3 separate regions of the Homo sapiens genome follow, and all the other regions are reported to be linked to region 3. Evidence: microRNA targets listed by miRTarBase, many of them from high-throughput screens and not tested one by one. Region 3 holds a microRNA gene; each other region holds the end of a gene's coding sequence.
Evidence for each region. Region 3 holds the annotated microRNA hsa-miR-125a-3p (ACAGGUGAGGUUCUUGGGAGCC, at 1,123-1,144, shown strand). A microRNA usually pairs through its seed, bases 2 to 8, with sites in the 3' UTR of a target mRNA and lowers its output. Matches are read on the target gene's strand: a 7mer-m8 pairs with bases 2 to 8, a 7mer-A1 pairs with bases 2 to 7 and ends in A, and an 8mer does both.

Region 1 (3,000 bases), not on the chromosome of region 3:
AGGATCCGGACCGTGCTTCCGGGGGCCCCCAACCAGCATGGCCTTCTCAGCCTGGATTCTGTATGGGTTAGAGGCAAATGCTTCATTTTTCTGCACAGTGTACACGTTCCTTAATAAGCGAAGTGTGGGGTGATTTCTAAAAGGATTTAAATGGCCCTCATCAGCCACGTCCTGCTGAGCTTGCTGGGTAAGCCCTTTGAGGTACCTGATGTATTGCAGGGAGCAGGGAAAGGAAAAAGGATTTTTTTTCAGAAATGCCTGTAAAGTGAATGGAGACTAGACACCGTCCAGCTTCAAGAAGGCTCAGGACTTTCAACAAAGGGAGCATACCTGACCTGAGAGCTGTCCCCATCCTCTCTGGAAGCATAAAGAACAGTGAGCACTGGCTAATCCCATTGTCTCTGGTCCCCTGCAGGCAAACTGTCCTTGGAAGAATTCATCAGAGGTGCCAAGAGCGACCCCTCCATCGTCCGCCTGCTGCAGTGCGACCCCAGCAGTGCCAGTCAGTTCTGAGCGAGCGGCCCCTGGACAGTTGCAGAGAAACACAGGCTTGTCGTGCCGTTTAAGCTTTGCTTGCAAGAGTGGATGCCCCGCAATCGTTCCTGCTCTCCCGGGCCCCGGGCCTGGGGCATGCGTTGCACCTGCCCAGCCCGGTGGCTGCGCCTCCCTCCTCCACCTGACCAACGCGACATTCCTCCCCTCACGCCTGGCCCGGTCCCTTCCAGGGCAACTCCCAGGGATGTGGTGACATGCAGGGTTCAAGTGTTCTTGGTTCCAGGCACCTCCCGGCTCACGGGGAGCTCAGAGGTCCATGCCGAGGAGACCAGGCAGGACCTCCCGAGGCTGCGCCCCGGCCGGCCCATGCGTTTTGTGATCCCAAGTGACTCTGTGGGAAGGGTGGGGACGAGGCGTCGGGAGGGTATACAGGGAGCCCCTCCCGTGCATGGCTGCCCCCCCGTTCATTTTCTCCACCACAGCCGCTTGCACGTATAGATACTGTGGTCCCCTTTCTTTTAATATATAAATTATGTATGGTGAAGTGGAGTGTATTGTGTAGGTCCCGTATTTAATGCCTCTGACTGCCTTTGAAGCGCAGCCCTCTGTGGCCCGCAGCCCCCTGAGCCTGGCTGTTGTGTGGTATTTATGCTCTCTTTGTCTGCCTGTTTCTAAGGAAATGCATGTGTGCCCTGAGCCGTGATGATCCTCCCATCCGTGTTGTGAGCACAGGCATTTGTGTCTGGTCTGTCCTCCCTGTTGATTGGTCTGGCATTTCCGGTATTAAAATGATAAAATAAATGGCATTTTCTGAGTTTTGCGTCTGCCCGCGGGAGCCCCCATTCCTCAGGCCGTGGCCCCTGCACTCTCCAGGCAAGGCGGGTGTGCTGCGTGCCACCGCTGTTGGTAAATCCGGCCCCTCTTACGTCCCTCCAGCTGTCCCCGCGTTTATAAATCTTGCACAGCCTGTTCTTCAATATCTGCCTAATGCCAAGAAATACTCGTGGAAATAAACGATGACTGTTCTTGGCAGATCTGACGGTCAGGCTTCTGCCTCCCCCCAGCCCTTCCCTCTCCTTCTCCTTCCACGGTTTCAGGTCGTAGGAAAGCCACATTCCAAGAGAGGACGGGCATAGCCAAGGGTGCAGTCAGGCTGGACCCAGAGGTGGCAGGCCTGGTTCTCCATCCAGCCTTCGCCGCTGCCGTCAGTGCTTCTGGTCCCAGCAGCAGAAGGCCCAGCTGAAGAAGTGGGGGTTGGTTGGTCTCGCCTGCCAAGGGATCCAAAGGCAGCATCGCTGGGGATCCCCAGGCATCAGCTTGTCTTTTTTTTTTTCTTTTTTTAAGAGAGAGTGTCTCTCTATGTTGCCCAGGCTGGCCTCAACCTCCTGGGCTCCAGCAATCCTTTCGCATCAGCCTCCTGAGTAGCTGGGACCTCGGGTGAACAGCACTGCGCCTCCTAATCACAGTCAGCTTTTCACCTCAGGCTTGTCTTCCTGGGGTGCCTACAACTGCTGTTGTGGTTCTGGGCAGTACAGCTGACATGGGAGCATCAAGAGGCAGGGAGAGAAGCCTCTGTCCTCCCACTGAGGGACAGGAAAACCCTCCAGAATCTGCCCACCACCCCGTCCCCACCAGCCCCACATCTCATGGCTGAAACCATGGCCTGTGTTCACAAGATGACCATGTCATGGCCACGGCTGGCTTACGCTGGTCAAGATGGCCCTTGGCCAAGGTGGCATCTGCCTCCCCCAGAGGGCATAGGGTTGGGAAGGGGTGAGTGGAATGGAGGTTCTATTACCAGGACGGGCACTACGGCGTCTGCCCACCTGCCTGCTGCTGTCGGCTCCTCTGTGCCTCAGTGTCTTCACTGTAGGGGATGGGGGGAGCTGGGTGGCTCAAGGTCACATATGCAAAGCGCATGGCTTGGAACCTGCCTCCCAGCAGGCCTTCAGCAACAGCAGCTAATTTGTTGATTTTAGTCATTTTAATATTTTTTAAGACTCCATGTCTCTTTTAATAGAAATGGTGAGTCTGTTTGCCAAGTGCCTTCTGAGTCAATGGCACTGCTAGAGCTATTTCATAGTAAAACTCTCCATGCACCCAGAGCCACCAAGCCTTGATGGGGGAACCAGGTGGGGTGCGAGATGGAGGCCAGGTGCCCTGGGCAGATCTAGCTTGCTACAAAGAGGCAAGACGGTGCCTTTGGCAACACTGCCTCACCTGGAAGAACAGCCAGTGAACGGCTTGAATTTTATAAACATTTAACTGGGACTGGCAAAGGTTAAATCAAGAGTGCTTGTTGTGGGGAGGGCTCACTTATGATGGGGACAGAGTCCAACAGAAACAGATGGGAGTGACCACTACATTAGTCAGGGTTCTCCAGGAACAGAACTGATAGGAGACATGCATGGATGGGAGGGGTGGGTGGATGGATGGGTGGGTGGGTGGGTGGATGGATGGATGGATGGATGTATGGATGAGTGGGTGAGGGGATGGGTGGGTGAA
Region 2 (3,000 bases), not on the chromosome of region 3:
ACTCCAGCCTGGGTGACAGAGCGAGACTCCGTCTCAAAAAAAAAAGAAAAAGAAAAAGAAAAAAAGCAACCAAAAAAACAATGGCTAGCCATTTACTTATGATCCAGATTGGACTCTAGTGGGCCAGTCCTATGTGGCCACTGGCAGCCAGTAAGGATTCCCTGGCCTATGTCTGCTGGAAGGGCCCTTGGAGAGCCTGGCTGAGGGGGCCTTCATTCTGGCCAGCTCTGGGCTGTGTGGCGTTGGGTGCCTGGCTCTCTGAGCCTCTCGCACCTCCCATCCCCACCCACGGTGTGCAGAAGGCAGAGGGCTAATGTCTCTCTTGCTGAGTCGTTGTGCAAATTAACAAAAATGAGTCTGGCACCAAAATGGCCCCCACACTTGGAAAACAGGCCAAGAGGCATCCACCGACCTGCTGACCCCTCTTTCCCCGCAGGCCCAACAGCGCCCTGGAATCCTGCTCCTTCGCCCGCCACAGTCTGCTGCAGACGCTGTACAAGGTCTAGACTCAAAGCCTCTCCCATCCCTTGGCCTGGACCAGTGAGCTGGGGAGGGACTCGGATGAACTGAGGCGCAGCCTACGCCATTGCCTTGGACAGGACTCTGGCCACAGGCAGGGCGGGTCTGTGTCCCATGTGTCCTGTCAGTCCCCTGAGTATGTGTGTGGGTGTGGCGCATGTGCAGGTCTGTGCCTCCTGTCGGGATTTGGGTTTTAACGTCTTCTGCTGGCCCAGCCCTGCTCTGTTGTGGGGAGTTGGCCCCCAGGGGAAAGGGCTGTGAGCTGCTCCGCCATTAAACTCACCTCCACCTGAGGGCGCTCTGCTGATCTCCGCCTGGGCCCTGATGGCCGTCCCCACCCACCTGCCTTCCGGCCCGGCTCCCTGGCGGAGCCAGAACCCAGGGAGTTGCCCGCGTGCTGTCCTTCCCCTCTGTGTTGTGATTGGGTTGTTTCCTGCCCTGCCTGGGGCTGCTTCTCGTCACCAAGCCCTGGTCCTGCGGCAGCTGTCACCCCTACCATCCATACCACTGTGCTGACCGCTCAGCCTGAAGAGCAGAGAATGCCATGGGTGGGACTGTGGGGGTCGGATCGTGGGGTTGTTGGCAGAGGGCAACCCTGGGCCCCACACCGTGTGGACAGGCAGACACCAGATTGTCCAGGAGCAGGAGCTGCTGGGACTGCGCTGGCCCCGGACCTAGTGGGCCTTCTCCTGGCTGCTGAGATGTCGTCTGTGACTGGCCTGGCTGGAGGGGGAGTGTTGACAACCCAAAGCTGTTCTCCAGTCTGGGGAGGGAGAGGCAGGGTCCCCAATGTCCGAGCTGCATCTGGACGCTGCTCTTAAAGGACCTCCTGGGGCAGGGGAGCGGTAGGGTCTGGACTGGGCAGATGCTGTATGACCTCCCTGAGCACCCGTGACTGCCCCATGCTTTCCCCTTTGTGCTCTGTGTGTGTCTGGGCTGTGCCCGGGGGCTTCACAAATAAAGTCGTGTGGCAGCTTCAGAGACTCAGAAACTCTCACTGAAAGCGGGATAGTCTCGGGGGCCGTTGTACGTGGAGTCCCACCTCGGCAGAGCATGCGGCCCCGCAGCAGTCTGTGGGGCAGTCAGCCCTGCAGAAGGGCCCGGCCTCGGCCTCAGGCCACTACCTGGGAAGTGGCAGTCCTGAGTGGGGGCCCATTTTCCTGCCTGGCCACACCTCACCCAGCACCCTGCCTTTGGGCTGCAGCTCGCTTGGCTTCTGCGTTGCTCCTTCACTATGGAAGCCACCTCCCTTGGGATCCTTTGCTCCACTGCCACATATGTGAGGACAGCCCAGCCAACCTTCCTTACCTCCTACCCTACACCATGTATGTGCTTTGGGAGCCCATGTCCCCCACAAACGGCCTCCAAGAAGTCCCTCCAAGGTTTCTTAGAGGGCAATATTTTCTCATTGGCAGTCGGCCACGTAGGTGACCAGGTGGCAGAGGATACTGCTGGCCCTGTCCCCTGTCTTCTGTGTGAGTTGATACGGTAGGGGGTGGGTGTGGGGCTGGCATTAAGTTCTGATGCCAGCTACAACGTGGATGAACTTTGAAAACATGTTAAATGAAATAAGCCAGACACAAAAGGACAAATATGATTCCATTTAGATGAGGCATCTAGAATAAGCAAATTCAGAGACAAGAAGGTAGAGGTTGCCAGGGCTAGGGGAAGGGTGGAATAGGGAGTGAGGCTGCAAACAGATTCTCTGGGATGATGAAGATGTTCTGGAAATGGAGAGTGGTGATGGTTGCATAACATTGTGAATGTACTTAATGCACTGAATTGTACACATAAAAATGGTTAAAATGATAGATTTCATGTATTAATATATTTTACCTCAGTTAATGTTTTAAAAATTAAGCAAAACTATAGAGCTTCACCCGGGTGTGGTGGCTCACGCCTGTAGTAATCCTAGCACTTTGGGAGGACGAGGCGGGCAGATCACTTGAGCCCAGGAATTCAAGACTGGCCTGGCCAACATGGCAAAACCCTGTCTCTACTAAAAATACAAAAATGAGCTGGGTGTGGTGATGCATGCCTGTAGTCTCAGCTACTTGGGAACCTGAGGTGGGAGGATCACCTGAGCCCAAGAAGTGGATGCTGCAGCAAGCCGTGATCGTGCCACTGCACTCCAGCATGACTGACAGCGAGACCCTGTCTCAAAAAAGAGAGAGAGAGCTTGTAGGAGATAGTGTAAGTGAGTATCTTCAAGGCCTTAGGAGTGAGGAAAAGATGAATAAATTAAGCTGTATTTAACCTCCTTTGCCATTATCGTGGGATGTTCACACAATGGAAATGATGTAGCAGTGAGAACAGGTTTCTGTTTATCAAAATACTCATTAAGGAGTACAAAGGCAACTTACAGACAGGGAGAAAATAATTGCCTAAACTCTCTCTGTATATATATATGGGTGGGGGGGATAACTTTAATTTTTTTCAAACAGGGTCTCATGTTGCCCAGCTTCTATCTCGGCTCACTGC
Region 3 (3,403 bases):
TAGGTAGGAAGCAGGTGTGCCCAAAGGGCCAAATTACGAGACAAATGAGGTTCCCTCCCAGCCGGCACCCAGGAAGCCAGGTTTTCTATCAGGCCATGCCTTCCCCAGGAGGCCTGCCTGGCCGGAGGGAGGAGGGGCTGGGGGCAGGGACTCCTGGGTCTCTGGGGAGAAGGAGGCTTTGGATCTGGACTCATGAGTCTGAGGGAGGAAGGGGCTGAGTCCTTGGATTCCAGGAACATTTGGGGAGAAAAGGGCCAGAGGCCTGGATTCCTGGGTCTGTGGTGAGGAAGGGCCTAGACTTCTGGGTTCTTTAGGGAGGAGGGGGATGAGAGCCTTGACTCCAGGGTCCCTGATGAGGAAGGGGCTGAGGGCCTGGACTCCTGGGTTCCTTGGGGAGGAGGGGCCGGGGGCCCGGACTCCTGGGTCCTGGCACCCACCCGTAGAACCGACCTTGCGGGGCCTTCGCCGCACACAAGCTCGTGTCTGTGGGTCCGTGTCGGGGGCTCACCATCGCGGCTGGGGCCTCCCCGGCCCTCCCCCTCATCCCTGGTCCTCCTGGTCCCTGTCTGTCTGTCTGTCGGGTCTGTCCACCTGCCGCGCCCCCCGGGCTGAGGTAGGAGGTTGTATAGTTGAGGAGGACACCCAAGGAGATCACTATACGGCCTCCTAGCTTTCCCCAGGCTGCGCCCTGCACGGGACGGGGCCCGGCGGGGACCCCCAGCCCCACTCAGGGACCCTTAGCCCCACTGGGCTGCCCCAGGGACCCTGGGAGGAAGAGCCGGGCTCTTTTCTGTCCTTGTCCCTGCATCCCCTCCTTCCCCTGAAATCTGTTTTCCTTCCCTGTCTGTCTCCATCTCTGCTGTGTCTCTGTGGCTTCTGTGTCTCTTTCACAGTGGATCCTCTGACTCCCTCTTATTCTGGCTTTCTAGGTCTCTGCCCCTCCCGATATCTCTCTGTGTCTCTATTTCTGTCGTTTTTGGTCTTTCTGTCTCTGGCTCTCAGAATGTCTCTGTGCCTATCTCCATCTCTGACCCCCACCCCAGGGTCTACCGGGCCACCGCACACCATGTTGCCAGTCTCTAGGTCCCTGAGACCCTTTAACCTGTGAGGACATCCAGGGTCACAGGTGAGGTTCTTGGGAGCCTGGCGTCTGGCCCAACCACACACCTGGGGAATTGCTGGCCTGACTTCTGACCCCTGACTCCTCATACCCTTCCTCCAGAGCATGACATTTGACCACCAACTGAAACCTGACCTCTGACCCCAGACCACTGGCCCTTCCCCCGCCCTGTGGTGACTTCATAAAGGTTACTAGCTTCTCCCCTGGCCTTGAGACCCACACGATGGCCCTGCTGGCTCTGGCCAGTGCCGTCCCGTCTGCCCTGCTGGCCCTGGCTGTCTTCAGGGTGCCCGCCTGGGCCTGTCTCCTCTGCTTCACAACCTACTCTGAGCGCCTCCGCATCTGCCAGATGTTTGTTGGGATGCGGAGCCCCAAGCTTGAAGAGTGTGAGGAGGCCTTCACGGCCGCCTTCCAGGGCCTCTCTGACACCGAAATCAGTGAGGAGACCATCCACACTTCATCAGTGTCCTGGGGAAGGTGCAGAGGGAGGGCAGGAGAGGCCCAGAGGGTCAGGCTGAGGGACAGACAGAGAGAAACAGTCAGAGGAGAAAGGCTCAAAGACCATGAGAACAACAGAGACTTAGGGACAGAGAGACACAGACAGGGGAAGACAGCAGGGCAAAGACTCAGAGAGGGGAGGATGGAGAGTCAGAGAGGGGAAGATGGAGACTCAGAGAGGGGGAGGATGGAGACTCAGAGAGAGAGGAAGATGGAGACTCGGAAAGATGGAGACTCAGGAGTATGGAGAGTCAGAGAGGGGAGGATGGACACTCGGGAGGATGGAGAGTCAGGAGGATGGAGACTCATAGAAAGGGGAGGATGGAGAGTCAGGAGAGGTTGGAGACTGGAGAGGGAATAGAGACCCAGAGAGGGGAGGATGGAGACTCAGAGGGTGGAAGATGGAGACTCAAAGAGGATGGAAACCCAGAGAGAGGAGGACAGAGATGAGGCAGAGACTAGGGGAAGCAGGATAGCGACTGGTCGGGGGCAGAGACTCAGGGAGGATAGAGACTTGGGAGGGACTCAGGAAGCATAGCGACTGTGGGGCAAAGAGTCAGAGAGGGGAGGATACAGACTTGGGAGGGCAGAGACTCAGAAACAGAATGTTCGCATTAGGGACATGGTGTTGCGGGGAGCTGCCTCCCCCAGCCCCTGCTCCCTCCCTCACCGCCAGACTATGATGAGAGAAGCCACCTGCATGACACCTTCACCCAGATGACCCATGCCCTGCAGGAGCTGGCTGCTGCCCAGGGTGAGTGTGTGGGGATGGGGAGATGGGAGATGTGGACTTGGAGCCCCTAAGAAATGGGTATGTGGGAGGGCCCAGGGCAGAGGAAGGAGGCCCCCAGAGTTGGGCAGTGATCCGGGAGGGGAAAGCTGGGAAGACATTGAGCTCAGCTACTTGTCCAAACGAAGGCTGAAGGCAGCTCTAAGAGCCAGGGGCTGAAGGTGGTGAGGGGGAAGGGACGCTGCAGAAATTGCCTAGAGCTGGAAGTCCAGATGGGGTCGGGTAGGCATAGGTTCTGCCATGGCTGCATGGCTCACACTCTTACTGGCTATGAAGTTCTGGGTGTGTCACTGCCCCTCTCCTGGCCTCAACTTACCCATCTGTAAAGTGGGACAATCTTCTTGCCTCCTAGGATGGCCATGGAGCTCAGTGCAGGGGTTGGGGCTGCCTGATGAGCCTGATCTTAGGGAAGGCATCTTCCTCTAGGATAGAACACACACACACTCGCACACAGACACGCTCAGAGACATACACTCACACTCACACACACACACAGATTTCTTATAAAGTGATTCCACATTTTTGAGGTGTGAGGCAATTAGAGGGCGGGAAAACAGGAACAGCAGAGTGGATCACTCAGGTGACAGCAGTGAAAAGAGACAAGGTGTGACTGTCCTGGTGAGACAGGCACATGTGACAGCCTTGAGGTGTGTGGCTGTGCGAAGAGACCTCAGGGCTGGGGGCCACGCAATGCCGATGGGCAGCATGGGCGGTAATCATGCCTGATCACCATGGCCATGATCCCCACGAGGTGCCAGACCCTGGAACTGTGGAGGCTCGGAGTTGCAGGAGTTACAGAGCCCTGCGCTATAGAATAAACTGGCTTCCTCTTAGGTCCAGGAGCTCAGGGCTTATTCCCACACCCACAGTCGCTCCTTTTGCTTCCTGCTTTGCCCTCCAAGCGTCCTGTCAACAATCCCGGAAGAGGGAAGGTTCCCATCCACCCAGGGGGCATCCAGGGCCAGCCTGGAGAAGGCCTCAGCTGTGGCTCTCCC

Region 1: miRTarBase lists HPCAL1 as a target of hsa-miR-125a-3p. Seed matches in the 3' UTR shown: 7mer-A1 at 674-680.
Region 2: the mRNA of RANGAP1 is a reported target of hsa-miR-125a-3p. Seed matches in the 3' UTR shown: 7mer-A1 at 806-812.

What each region holds. Positions count from the first base shown.
Region 1 is chr2:10,426,309-10,429,308 of GRCh38, forward strand. It overlaps HPCAL1 (hippocalcin like 1), which reads left to right. Exons shown (of 5, transcript NM_002149.4): 5 at 416-1,296. The coding sequence ends at 513. Among named protein-coding and RNA genes, the nearest start is that of SNORA80B, 19 kb to the right of the region's middle.
Region 2 is chr22:41,244,109-41,247,108 of GRCh38, reverse strand. It overlaps RANGAP1 (Ran GTPase activating protein 1), which reads left to right. Exons shown (of 16, transcript NM_002883.4): 16 at 437-2,330. The coding sequence ends at 506. Among named protein-coding and RNA genes, the nearest start is that of CHADL, 4.7 kb to the right of the region's middle.
Region 3 is chr19:51,692,184-51,695,586 of GRCh38, forward strand. MIR125A (microRNA 125a) reads left to right here and starts at 1,071; the gene lies at 1,071-1,156. SPACA6 (sperm acrosome associated 6) reads left to right here and starts at 1,147. Exons shown (of 9, transcript NM_001316972.2): 1 at 1,147-1,557; 2 at 2,295-2,372. The coding sequence starts at 1,344. It overlaps SPACA6-AS1 (SPACA6 antisense RNA 1), which reads right to left and starts at 1,273. Exons shown (of 2, transcript NR_108100.1): 1 at 451-1,273. MIR99B (microRNA 99b) reads left to right here and starts at 429; the gene lies at 429-498. It also overlaps MIRLET7E.